3 linked regions of the Homo sapiens genome follow. The protein of the gene in region 1 interacts with the protein of each later gene in a biochemical or structural test. Each region holds a gene or a part of one and is shown in the gene's direction. Other genes may lie near its edges.

Region 1 (7,512 bases):
GCTACACAGTAGTTAGTTCCCATTTTACTGGATAAGTTAAACACCTTTGCCATGCCTGTTGGGAGTTACATCACTCTAATGAGAAAAGAATATTCCTGTTAAGAAGCAAAAAGCATAGATTAAGGCTTTTAAAAAGTGCTGATTAAAAAATAAAGTCACTTAAAATGTAAACAAAATGCCTATTAAGCGAAAACTGGTTAGCTTTCATGGCATAATTTAAAGCCCTTATCCAGTATTTTCTCCCTGGTTGCAGGCACCCTGTCAATTCTTGACAAACTTTTCAGACATTCTACTTACGAGGGCTGCCCGCAGGGAAGTTTATTTTTAACTTCTCACACCTGTGGTTAATGAGTAACATTTTTGTAAACGTGGCCATTTTCAAGGAAGAAGGGAAGCATTTTATGCCAAAAAAAAAAAAAAAATTCAAAATAAGAAAAAAAAAAAACTACCCTAATTTATCTCCCTCTAATCTACCTATAGAAGAAGATGAAATGAAAGTTCGAGCTCTCCAGAGTCAATGGCCTCCTCTCTAGCAGAACTGGAAGAAATTAATAACAGGATAAAAGCCAAAGGTTTCAGGAAAAACAGCCCATCAATTAAATGTTACACCTAAATGTAACATTTGAAATGTAACATCTAAATGTGACATATTTAAATGTAACCTTTAACATTTAACATTTCAATGTTAAATGTTAAATTTTTGAGACAGGATCTTGCTCTGTCATCTAGGCTGGGTCTGGAGTGCAGTGGTGTGATCACAGCTCCCTGCAGCTTTGATCTCTCGATCTTCTGGGCTCCAGTCATCCCCCAGGACTCATGTCAGACTCCTGAATAGCTGGGACGAGAGGTGCCTGTCACCATATCTGGTTATTATTATCATTATTATTAAGAGTGTCTCACTATATTGCCCAGGCTGGACTTGAACTCCTGGGCTTAAGTGACCCTTCCACACTGGCCTCCCAAAGTGCTGGGATTACAGGAATGAATCACCACACCTAGCCTGTTTTTATTTCAGTCCTTCTAAATGACTGGATCTGATCAATTATTTTTTGTGCTTAATCAAATGTCTCCATTGCTAATCTTCAAAACAAATGAAATCAATTTAATTCAGATTTCCATAATTGCTCATGCTCCTCCTTAACCTTCTGGAATAATAAAATTTCCCAATACCATTGCCCCCCGCCACCCACACCCCCCTAGTTCCCGAAAATATATGTGCTTCTTTTTGTTACAAAAAGTTTAAATTGCCTGAGGCTCTGGGAAAATTCTATCACTATGGCAATTCCAAGAAGAAACAAGGCACAGTCCTAAATGAAGATTTGTTCTGTCTCTACCACATATATGCCTTCACACAAATAGTAGGTTTCAGAAGGAGTTACTGGTGTAGAAGAAATCCACTACTATATTCAAGGCAAACTTCCTCTCAGAAAAATGAAGAAATGAGGACGCCTTGTGTATGTTGCTGCTACCTGAGAGCAAGTCTTTGAAACCAAAATCAGGAGATGGTTAAGAGTAAAAAAGAACAAATACTAATTTTTAAAATCAACTTTTGAAAAAAACAACTTTATTGAAGCATAATTTACATACCGTAAAATTCACTCATTTTGTGTATAATCCCCAGAATTTTGAAGCTTTTACCAAATTGTACAGTCATCACTGCAATGTAGTTTTAGAACACAGATTTCCATCACCTCAATAAGATTCCCTGTGCCCTTTTACAGTTAATTCCTGTTCCCAGCCCATAAACTTGGGTACCCATGAATCTACTTTCTGTCTCTATTGATTTCCCTTTTTTTGTCACATTTCTCTCTCTGAATACAGTTTTAGAAAGAAAGAAGGAAAGAAGGAAAAAGAAAGAAAGAAAGAAAGAAAGAAAGAAAGAAAGAAAGAAAGAAAAAGAAAGAAAGAAAGAAATCCAAGAGTATTTCCTACCAATAGGAGAATACAATTTACTGAGGAAGAACCCACCTGGATAAAATAGAATTCTTAAGGAAGTCCAACGATCCTGGACACCACACACGTTGGTTGAATTAGAGTCAGAGTGGTCTTTAAGATTTAATTATCTCTCCAATTAGAGATAACAGACTTAGAGTTACAAGGGACCTTGATAATTAAAGAATACTGTAGTAAGCCCTGTTATCTTAACTAAGAAACGCCTCTGTTTCTAAAGTTTAAAAAAAAAGGCAAAAAAAAAAAAAACCTTTCAAGTAAAAGAGTAAACTCCCAAGCATTCCTATAAAAATCAGTCAGATGTTATTTTTTTTCTTATGAGACAGAGATATCCTGTTTCCTTAAATAAATTAGATATCTATGGGATTGAAATATAAAAGTTTCTTCCAAAATGTAAGGTGGGCTTTCCACTTCAAGCTCCACTATGCATATGATTCTAGTGTATTTTCAGTGCAGTAAATATATCAAACTATCATGGTTTTGGTTGACCAAATACTTTTCTAATCACTTATTTCCTTCCCCCAGAATCAATGAATTTTAAGAAAGCTTTAGCTACAGGTTTATCTTGCTTACATCCGGATTTCCAGGTATCCTTCCCTCTGGAAGAAACACTCGGCTTCCCAGAAATTTACCAAGCATTTTACAAGGAGCTCTTTTATATTTGAAAAGAGAAAACTGTTTTGTCAAGTGATGAGAAATTCCAAAAAAATCCTCTAACCCAGACAGGATTCTAAATTTGGGGAAATCCATGGCACTCTTTCAATTTGGAGTGTGGGTCACAAAGATTCCTCAAGAGGTTTTTTTACACTATTTGTAGGAAACTGATATTTGCTGGGTGTTTTGCTTTGTTTTGGTTTGGTTTTAAATCCTTGCATGAATAAAAACAAATGCTAATTTTGTGTCTTTAATGTGTCAGGCATTTTATAGAACACAGAGTTCTAATTACTCCTGTGGCAATTACTGAAGGTGAAACTTTTGGAGAAAATAGGTACCTTGCCGAAATAAATATATTTTATTAGTAGCTTCTTGTGTTTTAAAGCAAATGGAACCTCTGAACTCCTAACACAAGGAGAAGGCAAAGCATTCAGTTCGGGTCTCTCTGGATCTACTGTGGAAGTGGTGGACTCCTCCTTCTGAAGATCTTTAAAAGCAATTGTGCCTGTGTTTATCTGACAAAAAGGACTGATGTGATGTGTTGCTAAATGAGAGACTTTTCAGATTCCCTTTCCACTCTGAGTTTAGAGTTCAAGGCGGGGGAATCTTAAAGGAGAACTTTCCACACTCTTGGAGTAAATAACAATTGAAATATAAAAAATCTGGCGGCGGGGGATGGAGGGGGCATTCTGTAATGGAACTTGTCAGCAAAAAGAAAATGGCAAATAAATGTGAGAAAGGGGCCGAAGGAGGGCAAGACAGTACATAGGGTGCCCCCCACCCACCCGGCTTTTAATGATTCAAGCAAAAAAATCTCTGCTTTGTGTGTAACTGGCACGGTGAACGTGGGAAAGGACACGAAGACCTTTCTCTCCCCACAGCTGGTCCAACTTTCCAATTTTCAGGTTGTTCACAGTGATTTCACTTTCAGTGGAAACGGGCGTCCCATCCCCAGGAAAGGAAGGCTTTCCTGCATGTGTAAAAAAGTAAACTGTTACTTTGTCCTTGCAAAAGAAAACTTCATTCTCTGAACTTCCCCGGGATCTGCAAAGCGCCCCGCGGAACTCCCGGTACTTAGTAGAAGCTCATTAAAGGTCTCTGTTCCCCTTTGCTCCCCGTTCGCCCGCTGGCCCTTTCTCAGAGCCAGACAGGCACAGCGCTGAGAAGGGAAGAAGTCCGAACAGGGAGCTGTGAAGACAAAATAAGGGAGTCCCGAGTCAGTACCCTTTAGTCCAAAGAAAGGGAGCGGGATGGGGGGAAAGGCAGCCCCGCCCTGGGACTGAAAAGTCTGGATTCTTAACAGCTGCAAGGTCGTGGATATTTTATGGGTTTTCTTCCTCACAAAATACACTCCTATAAGCAGAGATTCCCCCCCTCCACCCCGAAGAGAGGTGACGCAATGTCCTCAAACACTACCACCACCCCCAATAAAAAAGAAAAGGGAAGGGGGAGCGTCTTGCAACCCCTTCGCTTCACACAAGTCCAGCCACTCCCTTTCCTCCCAGCCGCTTCCCATCCCTTCCCCCATCCCCTAAAAAGTTTGATGACCGCAAAGGAAACCGAAAAAAAGTTGTCTTGCCCCAGTCCTGGCGGGCCATCAGCATCTCTTTTGTTCGCTGCGAACCCACAGTCCCCCGTGACGTCACCCGGAGCCCGGGCCAATCGGCGCGCGGTCGGCTGCGGCGGCCGGCGGGCGGGCGGGCGGGTGGGGTGGGGCGGGGCGGGGACAGCCCGGCGGGTCTCTCCTCCCCCGCGCCCCGGGCCTCCAGAGGGGCGGGAGGGGACCGTCCCATATAAGCCCCGGCTCCCGGCGCTCGGACGCCCGCGCCGGCTGTGCTGCACAGGGGGAGGAGAGGGAACCCCAGGCGCGAGCGGGAAGAGGGGACCTGCAGCCACAACTTCTCTGGTCCTCTGCATCCCTTCTGTCCCTCCACCCGTCCCCTTCCCCACCCTCTGGCCCCCACCTTCTTGGAGGCGACAACCCCCGGGAGGCATTAGAAGGGATTTTTCCCGCAGGTTGCGAAGGGAAGCAAACTTGGTGGCAACTTGCCTCCCGGTGCGGGCGTCTCTCCCCCACCGTCTCAACATGCTTAGGGGTCCGGGGCCCGGGCTGCTGCTGCTGGCCGTCCAGTGCCTGGGGACAGCGGTGCCCTCCACGGGAGCCTCGAAGAGCAAGAGGCAGGCTCAGCAAATGGTTCAGCCCCAGTCCCCGGTGGCTGTCAGTCAAAGCAAGCGTGAGTACTGACCGCGGGCTGAAACAGGCTGCCTCAGGGATGGGACCCTAAAGCCGACCAAAGTTGGGGCTGAAGTTTTGTGCGCGCGCGTGTGTGCGAGTGTGTGCGCGCTTTACTGAGAGAAACCAGCTGTGCACACAAAAGGACCGAGTTTTGAGCACGCTGGTTCTGAGGGCCTGGGATGATAAGACCGTGCATTGGAGGACGAGGACTCTGCGACTTTCCCGTGTTCTAATAAATTCTGCACGTTCAGATTGTCCTTCTAGGAATTAACCAAAACTTGCCTTTAAAGAGAAAAATGATGCATGTCTATAAATTTTCCGTCTGGGATTAGTGTGGTCCTTACTGCTACTTATTTCCTTCTGTTAAATAATTGGTCAAATATTTTCAACATGGGGGTGGAAAGGGGGTATTGAAATAGCTGTCTTGTTTCTAACTAACTTGGAAGAGATGTAATTGGTTCAGACCTCTTTAGGGCCGCTCAGGATACTTCACCAAGAACAGAGGTTGGAATTCTTTCCGTTTTTCAAAGACACACCCTCCTTTTGCTTTGAGAAAGCTGCTTAAAGTTGTCCTTTTTGACTATTACTCCAAAAGAATATTTAAGTTCCTTGCATGTTTTAAAAATGTGACTTCAATTGTCTGCCTTCCAAAATGTTTCCAACTTTTTTATGTAGACCCCTGGCCAGATGGAAATGACATCATTGTATATAACTTTTAGCAAAGTTAAAAGGAAAAAAATATGTACGTCAATATTCACATGAAGAAAATTCCATAATTTTGGGAAAAGGAGAAATGCAAATGTAACGTTTTCCTTCAATTATTTGCAGCCGGTTGTTATGACAATGGAAAACACTATCAGATAAATCAACAGTGGGAGCGGACCTACCTAGGCAATGCGTTGGTTTGTACTTGTTATGGAGGAAGCCGAGGTTTTAACTGCGAGAGTAAACCTGAAGGTAAGTGACAACAAGCCCCATAGTTAGTATCTTTTAATACATGAAGTGGTAATTGTTAAACTTTGCATTAGTAAGTAAAAATACATACACCATTTTTCTAATAGAATTACCTGTCATTTCCTCTTAAGTTTAAAAACTGCTTATATTTGCTTTTCACATGCTTTTACCTTTAAAACAAAGAAACGAATCTTTCCCAAATTAGTTCCTAGAGTCTTCTTTTTGCTTTACTCTCCCAAAGTTTTTGATGAGAAAAATGAAAGATTTTGTGTGTCCTCCGACAAAAAAAATTGCTTATAAAATTTTAATTTATTAGAAAGCAGTCTCAAATCTTAAACTGTTAGTTTATGAGCCAGAAAACACTTTGGGGACTTACATCGTAAAATGATTTGTCAGCGGCAGTTAACACAAAACCATTAGCCACTTCAAAGTTCTCATTCCTTTAGGACCAATGATATTTTTCTCATAAATTATAGCAACTCTGTCAGAGAAGCACTGATCAGGGGAAAATGGAAATCATAGGATTAACAACTGTCAAGGCCTTGTGGGAGGTGGGGATCTTCGAATTGTTTGTTTGTTTTTGTTTTGTTTTGTTTTTGAGACAGAGTCTTGCTCTGTCACCAGGCTGGAGTGCAGTAGCACTATCTCAGCTCACTGCAACCTCTGCCTCCAGGGTTCAAGCAATTCTCCTGCCTCAGCCTCCTGAGTAGCTGGGACTACAGGCACATGCCACCACACCCAGCTAATTTTCATATTTTTAGTAGAGACGGGGTTTCACCGTATTGGTCAGGGTGGTCTCGAATTCCTGACCTCAGGTGATCCACCCGCCTCAGCCTCCCAAAGTGCTGGGATTACAGGCGTGAGCCACTGTGCCCGGCCAATCGTTTGCTTTTTATGTGAACCTTGCTTTGACTTTCTGAGTCAGAGATTGGAATGTGAAACCCTTCACAAATCTAGCTCTGTCATAAGTTAGTACTTTATATGGCCTTTTCCTAAGAGCCTGAGATTTTTCTACAATATGAATAATTTACAGAAAATTTGACAATATGTCAAGGTCAAAAACCATGGCCTTATTAGAGCTTAGGATAAAAATCTGTATCTCTCACTTCATTTTATTCTTTGAGGTGTACCATGTTACTTGTGGAATAGAGAAGTGGGTTTTCCTTTAGAGGGGATTAGTGAACTAGAAAAGCTTGTACCTAAGTGAGGCTCACATGGACTTTCCTTTTCCCCTCAGCTGAAGAGACTTGCTTTGACAAGTACACTGGGAACACTTACCGAGTGGGTGACACTTATGAGCGTCCTAAAGACTCCATGATCTGGGACTGTACCTGCATCGGGGCTGGGCGAGGGAGAATAAGCTGTACCATCGCAAGTAAGGAAGAGATTGTGTAAAATGATGCCAAAATATCAAATATGAATTTCTCTGTTACCATCACTGTCATTTTCTGTTATCCATGACTGGATATTCCGAACTTTGAGGTTTGCCCCTGGTGACCAGGTACTCTTAAGTGGTCACCCAACTGGTTCCTGTGTTTCTTAAAGACGGGTATGAGCACAGATGGAATCAGTGTTTGATGTGTGTGCGTTTATGAGTGTGTGTGCATTTATGAGTGTGTGTGTTTCTGTACATAGTAGAACCAAGAGACCTCTTGGGTTCCATTTCAGTAAGACATGCTTAGGGGAGTTGCCCATTTTAAATCACCTGGATATCTTCA
Region 2 (7,853 bases), on another chromosome or scaffold:
TCCTCCTTCCCAGCCATCATCACCTTTGTGAGCTCTCTCCCTCTCTGCTCAGGCTTATGCCGAGGGTCTCAGCGTTCTATGCTTCATCCTCTTCTCTTGTCCTCTCCTTGCCCCAGGACACCCCTGATCCCATGTGCTTCCTTCATTTTATTTCCTGTCTCTGTTCTTGCCTCCAAATCTCTCTTTAGACCCATTCACCTGTGTCATCTCTGCCAGCAGGCACCACAGGCCCTTCAGGCTCACTAGGTCCAAAACTGAACTCATCATCCTCCATACAGGCTTCCAAAACCTACCCCTCAGCTCACACCAGGTCCATTCTCCTTCCTTAATGTGTCTCCTCCTCTCCAGCCTCACCCCCGCTTCCTTGGCCCACACCACCATCATCTCTCGCTTGGATTATCACAGCAGTGTCACTTGGTCCTGTCTTGATCTCCAGGTGACCATACCCGTGACAGCCCAAGATAATTTATCCCTCCTTTACTTACAGAATGAAGTTCAACCCTGGTTCCCAACCCAGCAGGACTTCCAAGCCCTCCATCTGGCCCTGATCTGGCTTCTCTCTGTCCTCCCTTCCTCCTCTCTGATGGGCTCCCGGTGCCCCACCACCCCCTTAGCCTGTACTGCTATCACTCCTGTGGTTCTCTCAGCCCAAAATGCAGCCTCCCACTGCTGTGCTGTAAGCTATTCTGTCTGTTCACTCCTCTCCACCCAGCCAGGGCTGATAAAAACCTAGACAAGGTTCAAAAACCCAGATCCAAGGTCACCACCTTCACAAAGCTTTTCCTATTCCATTCCTCTCTCCAACCACGGGAGAATGGACCATTCCTCCCTGTGTGTCTTTATTGTGGAGACATGTGTCAGAGCATCGACTCTCTATCTTTAGTTCATCTATTGAGATATTGATCTCTCTTCTTGAGGCCAGGGGTATTTTCTGGGACATGGTTAGATCTCAATAAACATTGATACTGGAGGGATGAAATGAAGGAAGGATGGATAGAAGGCTATAAGGATGGGTGGATGGATAAATGGATGGATGGATGGATGGATGGATGGATGGATGGATAGATGGATGGATGGAAAAATGGATAGATGGATGGGTGGATGGATGAATGGATGGATGGATGGATGGATGGATGGATGAATGGATGAATATATGGGTGGATGGATGGAAGGAAGGAAGGAAGGAAGGAAGGAAGGAAGGAAGGAAGGAAGGATGGTAGAAGAAAGGTAGTACCAGTATGCTTTAGCTCATGCAGGCAAACAGATGATGGGCAGAGGGAAGCATGGTGGCTGATTACAGGAGGATCATAGCAGATGTTTAAGGCAAGATTGACAGCCCCACAAAGACTGAGAAGAGAAGATAAGAAAAATGGGAAAGTTATTAAGACACAAGACCTAGATCAGGAGCTAGAAGCTGGATCCCAGAACAAGGCAAGAGCCTAATGACTCGAGTAGCCAACTCATCCCAGTTTGCCAAGGTCTTTGCCAGTTTTAGCACTGAATATCCCACACCATCGGAAATTACTCAGTCCCAGCAAATTGGAATGGTTGGTCACCCTACTAGTAATTAAGACCAGTGCCCCACTTCAGAGCAGAAGCATCAGCCAGGCCCTGAGTGACATCTTGTAGGCTCTTGAACTGGTCTCACTCAATCCCCATGAGGCCCAATACCATGGAACAGAGGGCAGGGAGGCTGAGGGCCAAGCAGAGGAGCACCTGTGCTCAGCAGGGCAAGGCATCACAGGGGCCAACATTGGTTTCCCTGCCCTTCTCCCAGAAACCACCTCCCCACTTTGATCCTTTCCCATGCCCTGCTAGGCTCTAGGACACCAAATTCTCATATTCTAGCCACTGGCCCTCCCTAGGCAGTCACCCTGGGTGTTATGGACTGAATTGCTTCTCCCGCAAATTCTTATGTTGAAGTTTTAGCCCTCAGTGTGACTGTAGAGATTGGGCTTTTAGGGAGGTAATTAAAGTTAAATAAGGTTATAAGGGTGGCACTCTAATCTGATAAGATTGGTGCCCTTTTAAGAAGAGGAAGAGTAATCAGAGAGCTCGCTCTCTTCCTCTGCCCAATCCCTCTCTTGGGGGGTGTGTGTGTGTGTATGTGTGTGTGTGTGTGTGTGTGTCCAGTGTGGGCTCACAGGGAAGAGGTCATGGGCGAACAGAGTGAAGGCAACCATCTATAAGTGCCAGAGAGCCCTCACCAGAGACCAACCCTGACGGCACCTTGACCTTGGATTTCCAGCGTCCAGAACTGTAAGAAAATACATTTCTATTGTTTAAGACATCCAGTGTGTGTTTAAGCCAGGCCAGTGTGAGGTATTTTGTTACAGCAGCCAGAGAAGACTGATACACTGGGGTGCCATGCCCCCGAGACTCCTTCCAAATCTCTCCTTTCAAAACGCACCACCCTCAGTCCTGATTCCTTCAGAGCTCTTTCTGCATGGCAGTGGGAGTCATGAGTTACCTCAGACTTTCCCCCAAATTCTCAAGACATTCCTTAAGATGTAAGCTTGGGAAACGGCATGTGATGTCTTTCCCTCGTGGGTGGTCAGAGCACAGACAGCACACACAGGCTGGAGACGGCCCACAGGAAAGGTGGGCTAACCACCTTTCCCAAAGTAGTTTCATCTGGAACCCATTTGGGCGGTGTTACACTAGTTTCTGATGGCTGCTCTAAGAAGTTATCACAAACAGTGGCTCAGACAACACAAAATTCTTCTTTCATGGTTGAAGAGGCCAGAGGCCTCACTGGGCTAGAATGAGGATATTGGCAGGGCTCCACTCTTTCTGGAGGCTCTAGGGGAGGATCCATTCCTTTCCCTCTCCAGCTTCTAGAAGCTTCCTCACTCCTTGGCACCTGGCTCCGACATCACATTGACTTTTCCCTTCCTGCTTCTACCATCACATCACCTTCTTCTGACTCCAATCTCCTGCCTCTTTCTTGCAAGGATCCTTGTGATTGTAATTAGGACCCAGCTGGATAATCCATGACAATCTCTTCAAGATCCTTAACTTAATCACATCTGCAAAGTCCCTTTTGTCATAGAACGATAACATTCACAGGTTCTGGGTATTAGGACACGGATAACTTCGGGGTTCCATTACTCACCCATAACTGGTATGCAGTGCTGATTTCCATCCTGTAGGTACGGTTTAGGGATCTCTAGGTCAATGAGATAATGGACTCTTGCTCATGTTACATGGCATAATGGGAAGAAAGCCAAACCTAGAAAAAGAGGGACTCAGGTTCCCTTGTTAGAGCCTCTTCTTACTAACTGTGGGATTAGGGGCTGATTCCCTGACCTGCTGTGTTCTGTCTTCTCTCCAATTCAATGGGAATGAACTGTGAGGGCACTGAGCAAAAACTAAGGTCTCAATACCTAGTAGTAGTGGGACTTGCCTCTGGATACCCAGTAGTGATCCTGCCGCCTGTTTCTGGATATCCTACAGTAGCAATCCCACCTGTTTCTGGATATCCTACAGTAGTGATCCTGCCTGTTTCTGGATATCCTACAGTAGCAATCCCGCCTGTTTCTGGATATCCTACAGTAGTGATCCTGCCTGCTTCTGGATACCCAGAAGTGATCATGCCTGGTTCTAGATACCCAGTAGTGATTGTGTTTCCTCTAGATACCCAGTAGGTATTGTGCTTGCTTCTAGAGATGTAGTAGTAGCTGGACTTAGCTCTAGATACCCAGTGCTCATCTCTAGACTGGGCTGAGATCAGTGTCTCCCTTGAAGGGTTATTGTAAGGATGAAAAAAGATAATGCGTTTAAAGCACTTGGTGTAGTAGGTGGTCTTTTTAAAAGTGTGAATAAATACTAGTTCTTATTATTTCTGTGGATATCCAACAGCCACATAATTGGGCCCCAAAGCCATGAAGAAGGAAGAGGAAATGTCTTAAAGGTTGTCGATGGACAGTGTTTGCTGAACATCAAAATCACTTTCCAGGTATTACCTCTGATTTGCTCTACCAACTCCACACCCCACCTGCAGCCACATAACCTTCCATGATCACGGCCATGCACAACACACCATGTCCCCCAGGCAAGGGGACCTTAGAAACATAACCAGGCTTGAGACAGCACTCTGCACCGGTGTCTTGGAAATGCTCTTAAGAGTGTATGGCTGAGTTAGGGAACCAGGATTTCAAAGTAGAAAGGGAGAATCTACCCAAGCCCATAGAAATCCTGAATCCACTCCTTTCTCAGCAACAAGCACTGGCCTGGGAGTCAGCCACTTATGCACCAACCCCACTCTGCCCCTAATTAAATGCATGACTTTGAAAATTCCCCTCATTCTTCTGAGCCCCAATTCAGTGATTGGTGCAATCACAGGCTTGGCTACAGTGACCCATTCATTGCAGGCATGGTGAGTCTCTCAATCCCTCTCATTTCCACTAGAATCTAACTGTTGGGATCTATGACCCAGTCAGCATAGCAGGCCTGTGGGGAGCTCTCAGGTTCAAGCATATGCCCCCCCTAATCTACAAGAAATTAGCTGCAGAAAACCAAGGAATAGAACCTGGAAAAAGAGAGGGTTTGCTAGAGCTGTCCCTTTCCCTGTCTCTGGAATGCCAACAATAGGGAGGCTCTTTGGTCTTGTCTCTCAGGAGTGCCCATGCCATTCCAGGAAAATGATGGCCCAGCTGGTGGTGTAAGGCTTGGGGGGCAGCGAGTGGGCATCGTGGTGAAAGCCTCGGGATCAGGGAGCTGCGTCTGCAGGCAGGCCTGCTGGCCGGAAACCTGCCAGGAAAGGAAGGGGCTGTCCCGGGGCGGGGCCAGGGAGGGGTGGAGACAGGGCCGGCTGTGGTCAGTGACAAATGCTGGCTGCAATCCAGCCAGCCCTCTGCCCTTTCTGAGCCCGAGGGACTGCCACCTCCACTGTGTGCACACTCAGCTACGGGACACAGTAAGTACCGATGCCGCAAAGGGAGGTCCCCAGGGCTTGAGGGCATGTGAGGCGAGGAGAGGATGGACTCTAGAGTTTTGGGGTTTGGGGTCTGCAAAGCTCTGAAGGAGTCTCATCTCTGCAGTTTCAGGTATCCAAGGCAGCAGAGGTGAGTGGGTCCCCCGAGCTCTGTGACCTTATGCTCCACACTAACTCTGGCAGAGCCTCCGTTTCCTCATAGGTAAGATGGAAATAATTACACCCTCTGGATGGTGTGACTGAAGATTAAATACAGCGGGTGCTCTCACTCAGCACATCTGGCCATGTCTGCAGACACATTTGGTTGCCACAACTGGAAGGGGGGTGGGGGTTAGTGACATCTAGAGGCCAGCGATGCTGCTGATGATCCCACAATGCCCAGGACAAGATCACAAAGCATCATCCTGTTCAAAAGGTCAACAGGATCAAGGTTGAGAGACCCTGAAATAAGGCCATGGGGACAAAATGTCGGCTGGATAGGAGGTGCTCAGTAAGTGGCAGCTTCTGTTGTTTTCTGTGCCTGGAGTCTTGGGCCTTTAGAAATCAGGAACAATGATCCAATATTATCGGCTTCCGTGAGATAAGGGCATCTTGCCTGGAGGCTGCCACCCAGGCCGGTCATGGCAGCTGCTCATGAAGGACAGTAACAATTTGGCAGTTTGTTAAATGAACAAAATGTAGAAATAAAGTAAGCAGAATTTTTAGTTTTTCTGAAGGTAGGGCTTTTGGCCAGATATGCAGCAATAAAAGAGCAAACTGCTTCCTTGGGCCAGTGTCCTTGCTCATAGATCAGGAAACCGAAGCATGAAGAATACAGGCGGCAGATGCCTGAAGGTAACGGACGTGTTCATGGTGCTGACGGTGATGATAAGTGACAGATGTAGACTCATCTCCAAACTTGTCAGGTTATAGACATTAAATATGTGCAACTTTATGAATAGCAGTCATGTCTCAATCAAGTGGTTTTAATAAAGAAATAATAGGAAGCCAGAGCTGAGAGACAGGGAGGGAGTTGTTCAAGGTCACCTGGCAAGTGAGCTCCGGGGCGGGGAGAGCTCAGCTCTGGGTGGCCAGCCTGGCTTTTTCCACTGCTCAGTGTCCAGCTTGCAGTCTAATGTCTCTGAATTACAGAGAAGGAGACTGGTCAGTTCATTCATTCATTCATTCTACAAAGGTTTATGGAGCATCTCTCCTGACTGCAAGCTCTTGAAGGTGAGAGCAGCACAAATGAGGGTCCCATGGAGAGAGAGGCCGGAATGAAAAATGTCAATGACAAATGCATATATAAAGGCACATGTGTAATTGAAAGAGCTTTGAGAGAAAGAGTCAAGGGACTGTTCCAGAGAATAGCCATGGAAGGGGAAAAGGTCCAGTGTGATAAGGTATTGCAAAGAAGTGACATTTAAGCAAAAGCCTGCAGCCTATGCAGAAGTTGGCCTCAGTGAGAAAGGTTGGGGGAGGGTTCCAGTAGAGAGGGAAGGTATGCAAAGGCCCAGAGTTAGGACAGAACTTGCTGTGTTTGAGAAACTGGGAAAAGAAGAGTGAGCCTGGGGGTATCACGTGATCCAGGGCAGAGCAGGTCCAGGCCAGGTGCAGCCAGGTCACAGCAGCCCTAGTGGGTTAGAGCACAAATCAAAGTTTAGCATTTATCTGAAACACAGGAGTTGGCCATGAGTTTCTTAGGCGAGGAAGCGCTGTGACCATATTTATGATTGAAGGAGATTCTTTTATATGCTGTATATAGAAAGCCTTTCAGGGCAAAGAAAGGAAGCTACTGGGGTAGCCCTGGGGGAGATGAAGGGAGCTTCCACTGGGGGCAGTAAGAAAGCCAGGGAAAGGCGGCAGCTTTAAGACCTGTTTTGGAGATAGAACGGACAAGCTTTGCTGATGGGCTGGAGTGGAACAGGAAGTCAAGATTACTTCTTCTGGGAAGTTCTGTTCCTGGGTCTTTAGGATCTAGAGGAAGCTGTGACTTTGTCTCTCATCTCTGCCTGGGCTCCAAGCCTCACATCCCTTTTTGTAATTAGAAGATATTGGACAGACCGTCCTCACTAACACAATTCCCACAGCTGAGTCCAGGGTAGAACTGGGCAGGACTTCACTGCCCAACACGGGAAATATCAGTCAGCAGATTTGGGTTTCGGGGATGGTGGTGGGCCAGCGGGAAGACTGACCAGGGCCTACCCATCACATCCCCACCACCTCCCACCTCAATTCACCTTGGCCTGAGATGACAGGTGAACATGACTGATCCTCTCTCTTCCCTCTGCAGAAACACTAAAGCCAGGGACCAGGAGAGGGGCAGCCCAACCAAGCTTTCAAAGCACTCAGTAGAGGCTGGTCTGGGGGATGGGAGGCTCCCAGGGCTTCACCTGTCTCTGTCAAAGCCATGTATTTCCACCAGAGGCCCAAGAGTGCGATGGCAAACCCTGGATTTGAAACTAAGAAACGTAAAACAAGCACTGAGGACTCCACTGCCTCTTGAGTGACCTCTCTGACCCTCTGTTTCTTCTGCACTGTTAGGATAATGATACTAACTCCATGTTGTTGTAGAGAAGTATAAATGAGCTAATACAGGTGAACCGCCTGGGGATACCAGGAGGTGAGGTCGAGGAGGAACGAGGTATCACTCCTCAGAGCCACTCAGAGACAGGCTGTGCACGAGTCAGAGGAACCTGGATTTTAATTCCGGTTCCATCACTCAGTAGCTGAAACAAGCTATTCCACTTCACTTAGCCTCAGTCTATTCAATCTGTAAAATAGAGTGAGTTTACTTTTGGAAAACTCTGTAAAATAGAGAGCTTACTTTTGGTGAAGGTTAAACATAGTAATATTTATGGAGTGTCTAGTATGTCTTTAATAATTAGTGGTTTTACTGAAAAGTAGAGAGAGTTGGCCCAGAGGGAGCAAGATTTCT
Region 3 (7,000 bases), on another chromosome or scaffold:
GGGTGCATTTGGGGTGTGTGGGAAGGAGAGGGAAAGAAAGATGGACAGTGGGACTCTCCCCTAGCAGGGTCTGGTGTTCCGTAGGCTAGAGTGCCCCTCTGCTCTGCGAGTGCTGGGCGGGAGGGGAGTTGGTGAGAGCTGGAGACCCCCAGGAAGGGCTGGCAGAAGCCTTTCCTTTTGGGTGCTGTCAGGTCCGCATGTCTTGGCGTGTTGACCTTCACAGCTTCTGGCGAGGGGAGGAATGATCTGATGCGGGTGGGGAGGGTTAGAGGAGGCCTCAGGCCTAAGGTGGTGCAGGGGGCCCCCTAGGGGCTGGGCAGTGCCAAGGCATAAAAGCCTTCCCTGGTCCCTGGTGGCATTTGAAGGTGCCCAGGTGAGAGGGGCTTGGCACCTCCTCACCCTGGGAGGGAGAAGAAACCAGGGAACAGGTAGGAGTGGGAGACAGGTGAGGCTTTGGAAATCTATTGAGGCTCTGGAGAGATTTGTGTAGAGAGGAAAATGTGGTTCTCCCCCAGGGTCTCCTCCTGGGTTTTTACCCTCTAAGCAACCTGTGGGCATGCTGGGTTATTCCTAAGGACTAGAAGAGCTTGGATGGGGGAGGGTGGTTGGTGCCCTTCGGTCCTCGGCACCCCCCTCCGTCTCCAACACCAGCTCACCCTGGTATTTGTCATGTCAGCAGGAGAAGGTCACCATGTTGTTTTTCTCGCCCCTAGTCCTTCCTTCCTGCCCCAGTCCAAATTTGTCCTCCTATTTGACCTTAATACTTACCATGGCTTTGGACCAGGGAACTAGGGGGATAGTGAGAGCAGGGAGAGGGAAGTGTGGGGAAGGTACAGGGGACCTCGACAGTGAAGCATTCTGGGGTTTTCCTCCTGCATTTCGAGCTCCCCAGCCCCCAACATCTGGTTAGTCTTTAACTTCCTCGGGTTCATAACCATAGCAGTCCAGGAGTGGTGGGCATATTCTGTGCCCGTGGGGACCCCCGGTTGTGTCCTGTTCGACTCAGAAGACTTGGAGAAGCCAGAGGCTGTTGGTGGGAGGGAAGTGAGGAGGGAGGAGGGGCTGGGTGGCTGGGCCTGTGCACCCCAGCCCCTGCCCATGCCCATGCCTTGCTCTCTTTCTGTCCTCAGTGGTCCCAGGCTGCACCCATGGCAGAAGGAGGAGGGCAGAATCATCACGAAGGTGAGTCCCCCTGGCTGTTGGATGGGGTTCCCTGTCCTCTCAGGGGATGGGTGGATGGCCTAATTCCTTTTTCTTCAGAACTGTGGGGAGGAAGGGGAAGGGGCACAGGAATATAAGGATCAAGAAAGAAAGAGCTGGGCACCACGAGGTTCACCCTCAGTTTCGTGAGGACTCTCCGCTGTTCAGGTCTCTGCTAGAAGTAGGACTTGTTGCCTTTTTCTTCTGCTCTTTCCAGTAAAATTTTATTTGGAGAAGGAGTCGTGCGCACAGAGCAGGAAGACAGTGTTCAGGGATCCTAGGTGTTGGGGGAAGTGTCCCTTGTTTCCCCTAGCTCCCAGGGGAGAGTGGACATTTAGTGTCATTTCCTATATAGACATGTCCCATTTGTGGGAACTGTGACCCTTCCTGTGTGAGCTGGAGGCACAGAGGGCTCAGCCTAATGGGATCTCTCCTCCCTTCCCTGGTTTGCATTCCTTTGGGGGTGGAGAAAACCCCATTTGACTATGTTCGGGTGCTGTGAACTTCCCTCCCAGGCCAGCAGAGGGCTGGCTGTAGCTCCCAGGCGCCCCGCCCCCCTGCCCAACCCCGAGTCCGCCTGCCTTTTGTTCCGTTGTGGTTTGGATCCTCCCATTTCTCTGGGGACACCCTGGCTCTCCCCACCACTGACTGTGGCCTGTGCTCTCCACCTCTGGGGAGGGAAGGCCCTGGGGTCTTCCTTCCCGCGAGTTTCCCTGACCTAAATCTGGCGTGGCTGGGTAGTGGCCAGCAGTGGTGATGCCCAGCCTGTTCTGCCTCCTCCTTCCCCACCCCAGGAGCCCTTTCCTTGGCCTAGGACCTGGCTTCTCAGCCACTGACCGGCCCCCTGCTTCCAGTGCGCCACTTACCCCTTCCAGCTTCCCAGTGGTCTCTGGTCTGGGAGAGGCAGGACAAAGGTCTTTGTTTGCTGGAGAAAAGGTTGTCTGCGATAAATAAGGAAAACCACGAAAGCCTGGTTGTTGGAGTGTACGTGTGTGCTCCCCCAGGCAGTGGAGGCCAGCCCTCCTTGGAGGGGCGGCTGCCTGATGAAGGATGCGGGTGAGGTTCCCCGCCTCCACCTCCCATGGGACTTGGGGATTCATTCCAAGGGGAAGCTTTTTGGGGGAATTCCTACCCCAGGTCTTTTTACCCTCAGTTACCAACCCCTTGCCCAGGCCAGACCTTCCTGCTATCCCCTCCTGGGCCACAAGCCTGGCCCTCCTCTGTCCCAATTGTGATGAAGGGGCAGTTCAAAACTTCTTGATTAGTCATCTTCTCCCCTATCGACTTGGCTTTAAAAAATGACCTTTTCAGACTTCTAGTCTCGTTCACTCTTTTTGATGATGCTTTGCCGTAACCCTTCGTGGGTAGAGAAGGATTCTGTGCCCATTGGTGGTCTGGATAAAAGAAATAGAGACCTCACAGGAAGCAGTGGACTGGCCTGTTTCCCCACTGTTCTTTCTGTTTTCACACCTGTGGCCTTCTCCCCACCTTCTTCCCAATCAACCTATTGTGTACATAGCCCCCCTCATTGTCCTTTATTCTTCTGGAAAGCAGACCTTGGAGGGAGGAGTGAGGGGGAGGCTCAGCTGTGGTCTCTGGGGGGTGGGGGTTGGGAGCTGGGGTGGAAGTCCACGAAGCATACACTTAAGATGCTTTGGTGAAGTTCTAAACTTCATATTACCCAGGCTGAAAAAAGAGCACTTGTTCCTAGGGCTGGAAATGGAAGCCAAAACACCACCTTTTTCAGCCTGTTTCAGCATCTTTAGAGATCAGCCCAACCCACTTACACAGTTGAGCAGAGTTGGAGGCCTAGAGAGGGGAGGGACTGGCCCAAGGTCATACCAACTCATGGCCAGAGCCTGGGCCTCCTCACTGGCCAGGTGTTATTTCTTCCCTCTGGGTAGGGAACCTATTTCAGGGACAGGATTGCTATGTGGTAGTGGTGGTGGGGTGCGATAGGCGTGGCAGGCTGGGCCACAATTTGGAGTAGTCATGCCAGAGTCCTGCATTTATTTATTCTCAAGGGCCCCGCCTCTGTGGCCCAGAATTACCCCTTCATGCTCCAGTGCACCCCAGGCTTCGTGGCCAGCCTGGGAAACTGTCTCTACCCTGGTCTCCCTTCAGATCAGCTTCTAGAAATGTTTCGTGGCTACAGTGGCAGCACTGTTTTTTCCATGATGCAAGCAGTTTGCCCTCTTGGGCGGGGTTATCAGTGGCTGGCAGGGCTGGCACAGCGTGTCCGCCCACTGCCACCTGTGGGTTCCAGGAGGGCCCAGCCCCTGTGCTGATGCCCACCACCTTCTCAGCTCATGTCTGGGGAAGAGGACTGGCAGGGGGAAAGGTGCCTCCTCCTGAAAGGTGCCTCCTCTGTTTTTGCCTAATATAGGCTTGGGAACACTTTGATGTCAGCTAATTCTGACTCCTTTACTTACTAGCTGTGCGGCCTTGGGGCAACTTACTTAGCCTCTTTGAGCCTCCTGTTCCCCATCTGTAAAATGGAATCTCAATAGTGTCTAATAGTACCATGTGGAGAAACTTGTGTGAAATGATAGCTGTGGACTACTGTACACAGTACTCAGGATGTAGTAAGTGCTCAATAAACAGCTGTTGGTATGGTTGACGTTATGGTAGTGGTTGTGGGGAGGACGTAGGAAACTGGAGACTAGCTTGGCAAAGCTGGCTCTTCCTCCTTTTAGGGAAAGCTTAGAGCATCCCCATGGGGTATACCCATACTCAGACTGTCCTCTGGCATCGAGGTTGGCCCAGGATTCAGTTCAGCTGTCACAGTGAGGTGGCGGGATCAGATGTGGCAGGCCATGTCCCTTGGAACTTGAGTACATCGTGTGATCTCTGGAATGAAAACAGGCCTTCACCAGTGTTGATGGTGGAAAGCTTAGGGAAGTGCTTCAAACACAGTAGGAGGGACTTACGTTAGATTTTGGAAGGACTTGCCTGATTCGGAAGCTCCAAAGAGTGGCATTACAGAGCTGGGTGGAGAGAGGGGCTAGCCATCTTTTGTGTCGCCCACCGGGCTCATGTGTCATCGCCTCTCATGCAGTGGTGAAGTTCATGGATGTCTATCAGCGCAGCTACTGCCATCCAATCGAGACCCTGGTGGACATCTTCCAGGAGTACCCTGATGAGATCGAGTACATCTTCAAGCCATCCTGTGTGCCCCTGATGCGATGCGGGGGCTGCTGCAATGACGAGGGCCTGGAGTGTGTGCCCACTGAGGAGTCCAACATCACCATGCAGGTGGGCATCTTTGGGAAGTGGGGCAAGGGGGGGATAGGGAGGGGGGTAACACTTTGGGAACAGGTGGTCCCAGGTCGTTTCCTGGCTAGATTTGCCTTGTCTGGCTCCTGCCCCTGAGTTGCACAGGGGAGGTATGGTGGGGTCTTGCCTTCTGTGGAGAAGATGCTTCATTCCCAGCCCAGGTTCCCAGCAAGCCCCAACCATCTCCTTCTCCCTGATGGTTGCCCATGGGCTCAGGAGGGGACAGATGGATGCCTGTGTCAGGAGCCCCTCTCTCCCTCTCTTGGAGAGAGTCCTGAGTGCCCCCCCTTCTTGGGGGCTTTGTTTGGGAAGCTGGATGAGCCTGGTCCATGGAGAGTTTAAAAAGTCTTTTGGTGTTACCTGGTAATGGGGCACATCTCAGCCCAGATAGGGTGGGAGGGAGCTGTGAAACACAGGGAGGGGGTTGCTTTCGGGTATCTACTAGGAGTCAGGGTGAAGCCTAGAGAGGATGAAAGAAGGGGAGGGGATGGGGAGTGGTAAGAACCTAGGATTTGAATTCCCAGCCTGGCCAACCCTTGCAGCCATGTCTTGGCCTCAAGTGGAACAAGGGCTCCTTGAGGCCAGCAGGGTTGGGGGAGTTGGGGTGGGCCTGAGCCTCTTTCCTGCTAGAGCTCTTGGTCCTCCCTGCCTCCACCACCCATCCCTGCTCTGCAGAACCCCTGGGTGCTGAGTGGCAGGAGCCCCAGGGTTGTCCCATCTGGGTATGGCTGGCTGGGTCACTAACCTCTGTGATCTGCTTCCTTCCTTTCCAGATTATGCGGATCAAACCTCACCAAGGCCAGCACATAGGAGAGATGAGCTTCCTACAGCACAACAAATGTGAATGCAGGTGAGGATGTAGTCACGGATTCATTATCAGCAAGTGGCTGCAGGGTGCCTGATCTGTGCCAGGGTTAAGCATGCTGTACTTTTTGGCCCCCGTCCAGCTTCCCGCTATGTGACCTTTGGCATTTTACTTCAATGTGCCTCAGTTTCTACATCTGTAAAATGGGCACAATAGTAGTATACTTCATAGCATTGTTATAATGATTAAACAAGTTATATATGAAAAGATTAAAACAGTGTTGCTCCATAATAAATGCTGTTTTTACTGTGATTATTATTGTTGTTATCCCTATCATTATCATCACCATCTTAACCCTTCCCTGTTTTGCTCTTTTCTCTCTCCCTACCCATTGCAGACCAAAGAAAGATAGAGCAAGACAAGAAAAGTAAGTGGCCCTGACTTTAGCACTTCTCCCTCTCCATGGCCGGTTGTCTTGGTTTGGGGCTCTTGGCTACCTCTGTTGGGGGCTCCCATAGCCTCCCTGGGTCAGGGACTTGGTCTTGTGGGGGACTTGTGGTGGCAGCAACAATGGGATGGAGCCAACTCCAGGATGATGGCTCTAGGGCTAGTGAGAAAACATAGCCAGGAGCCTGGCACTTCCTTTGGAAGGGACAATGCCTTCTGGGTCTCCAGATCATTCCTGACCAGGACTTGCTGTTTCGGTGTGTCAGGGGGCACTGTGGACACTGGCTCACTGGCTTGCTCTAGGACACCCACAGTGGGGAGAGGGAGTGGGTGGCAGAGAGGCCAGCTTTTGTGTGTCAGAGGAAATGGCCTCTTTTGGTGGCTGCTGTGACGGTGCAGTTGGATGCGAGGCCGGCTGGAGGGTGGTTTCTCAGTGCATGCCCTCCTGTAGGCGGCAGGCGGCAGACACACAGCCCTCTTGGCCAGGGAGAAAAAGTTGAATGTTGGTCATTTTCAGAGGCTTGTGAGTGCTCCGTGTTAAGGGGCAGGTAGGATGGGGTGGGGGACAAGGTCTGGCGGCAGTAACCCTTCAAGACAGGGTGGGCGGCTGGCATCAGCAAGAGCTTGCAGGGAAAGAGAGACTGAGAGAGAGCACCTGTGCCCTGCCCTTTCCCCCACACCATCTTGTCTGCCTCCAGTGCTGTGCGGACATTGAAGCCCCCACCAGGCCTCAACCCCTTGCCTCTTCCCTCAGCTCCCAGCTTCCAGAGCGAGGGGATGCGGAAACCTTCCTTCCACCCTTTGGTGCTTTCTCCTAAGGGGGACAGACTTGCCCTCTCTGGTCCCTTCTCCCCCTCCTTTCTTCCCTGTGACAGACATCCTGAGGTGTGTTCTCTTGGGCTTGGCAGGCATGGAGAGCTCTGGTTCTCTTGAAGGGGACAGGCTACAGCCTGCCCCCCTTCCTGTTTCCCCAAATGACTGCTCTGCCATGGGGAGAGTAGGGGGCTCGCCTGGGCTCGGAAGAGTGTCTGGTGAGATGGTGTAGCAGGCTTTGACAGGCTGGGGAGAGAACTCCCTGCCAAGTACCGCCCAAGCCTCTCCTCCCCAGACCTCCTTAACTCCCACCCCATCCTGCTGCCTGCCCAGGGCTCCAGGACACCCAGCCCTGCCTCCCAGTCCAGGTCGTGCTGAGCAGGCTGGTGTTGCTCTTGGTTCCGTGCCAGCTCCCAAGGTAGCCGCTTCCCCCACACCGGGATTCCCAGAGGTTCTGTC

What was found.
Region 2: the proteins of FN1 (region 1) and SERPINA5 form a complex in vitro, tested with the Homo sapiens proteins (one study listed by IntAct).
Region 3: the proteins of FN1 (region 1) and VEGFA form a complex in vitro, tested with the Homo sapiens proteins (one study listed by BioGRID).

The regions. Positions count from the first base shown.
Region 1 is NC_000002.12:215,432,981-215,440,492, reverse strand, and holds the start of FN1 (fibronectin isoform 1 precursor), read left to right. Parts: upstream 1-4,424; 5' UTR 4,425-4,690; coding exon 4,691-4,838; intron 4,839-5,668; coding exon 5,669-5,797; intron 5,798-7,031; coding exon 7,032-7,169; intron 7,170-7,512. UniProt on the Homo sapiens protein: Fibronectins bind cell surfaces and various compounds including collagen, fibrin, heparin, DNA, and actin. Fibronectins are involved in cell adhesion, cell motility, opsonization, wound healing, and maintenance of cell shape.
Region 2 is NC_000014.9:94,576,573-94,584,425, forward strand, and holds the start of SERPINA5 (plasma serine protease inhibitor preproprotein), read left to right. Parts: upstream 1-4,853; 5' UTR 4,854-4,918; intron 4,919-5,042; 5' UTR 5,043-5,138; intron 5,139-7,853. UniProt on the Homo sapiens protein: Heparin-dependent serine protease inhibitor acting in body fluids and secretions. Inactivates serine proteases by binding irreversibly to their serine activation site. Involved in the regulation of intravascular and extravascular proteolytic activities.
Region 3 is NC_000006.12:43,773,211-43,780,210, forward strand, and holds part of VEGFA (vascular endothelial growth factor A, long form), read left to right. Parts: intron 1-1,130; coding exon 1,131-1,182; intron 1,183-4,258; coding exon 4,259-4,455; intron 4,456-5,249; coding exon 5,250-5,326; intron 5,327-5,678; coding exon 5,679-5,708; intron 5,709-7,000.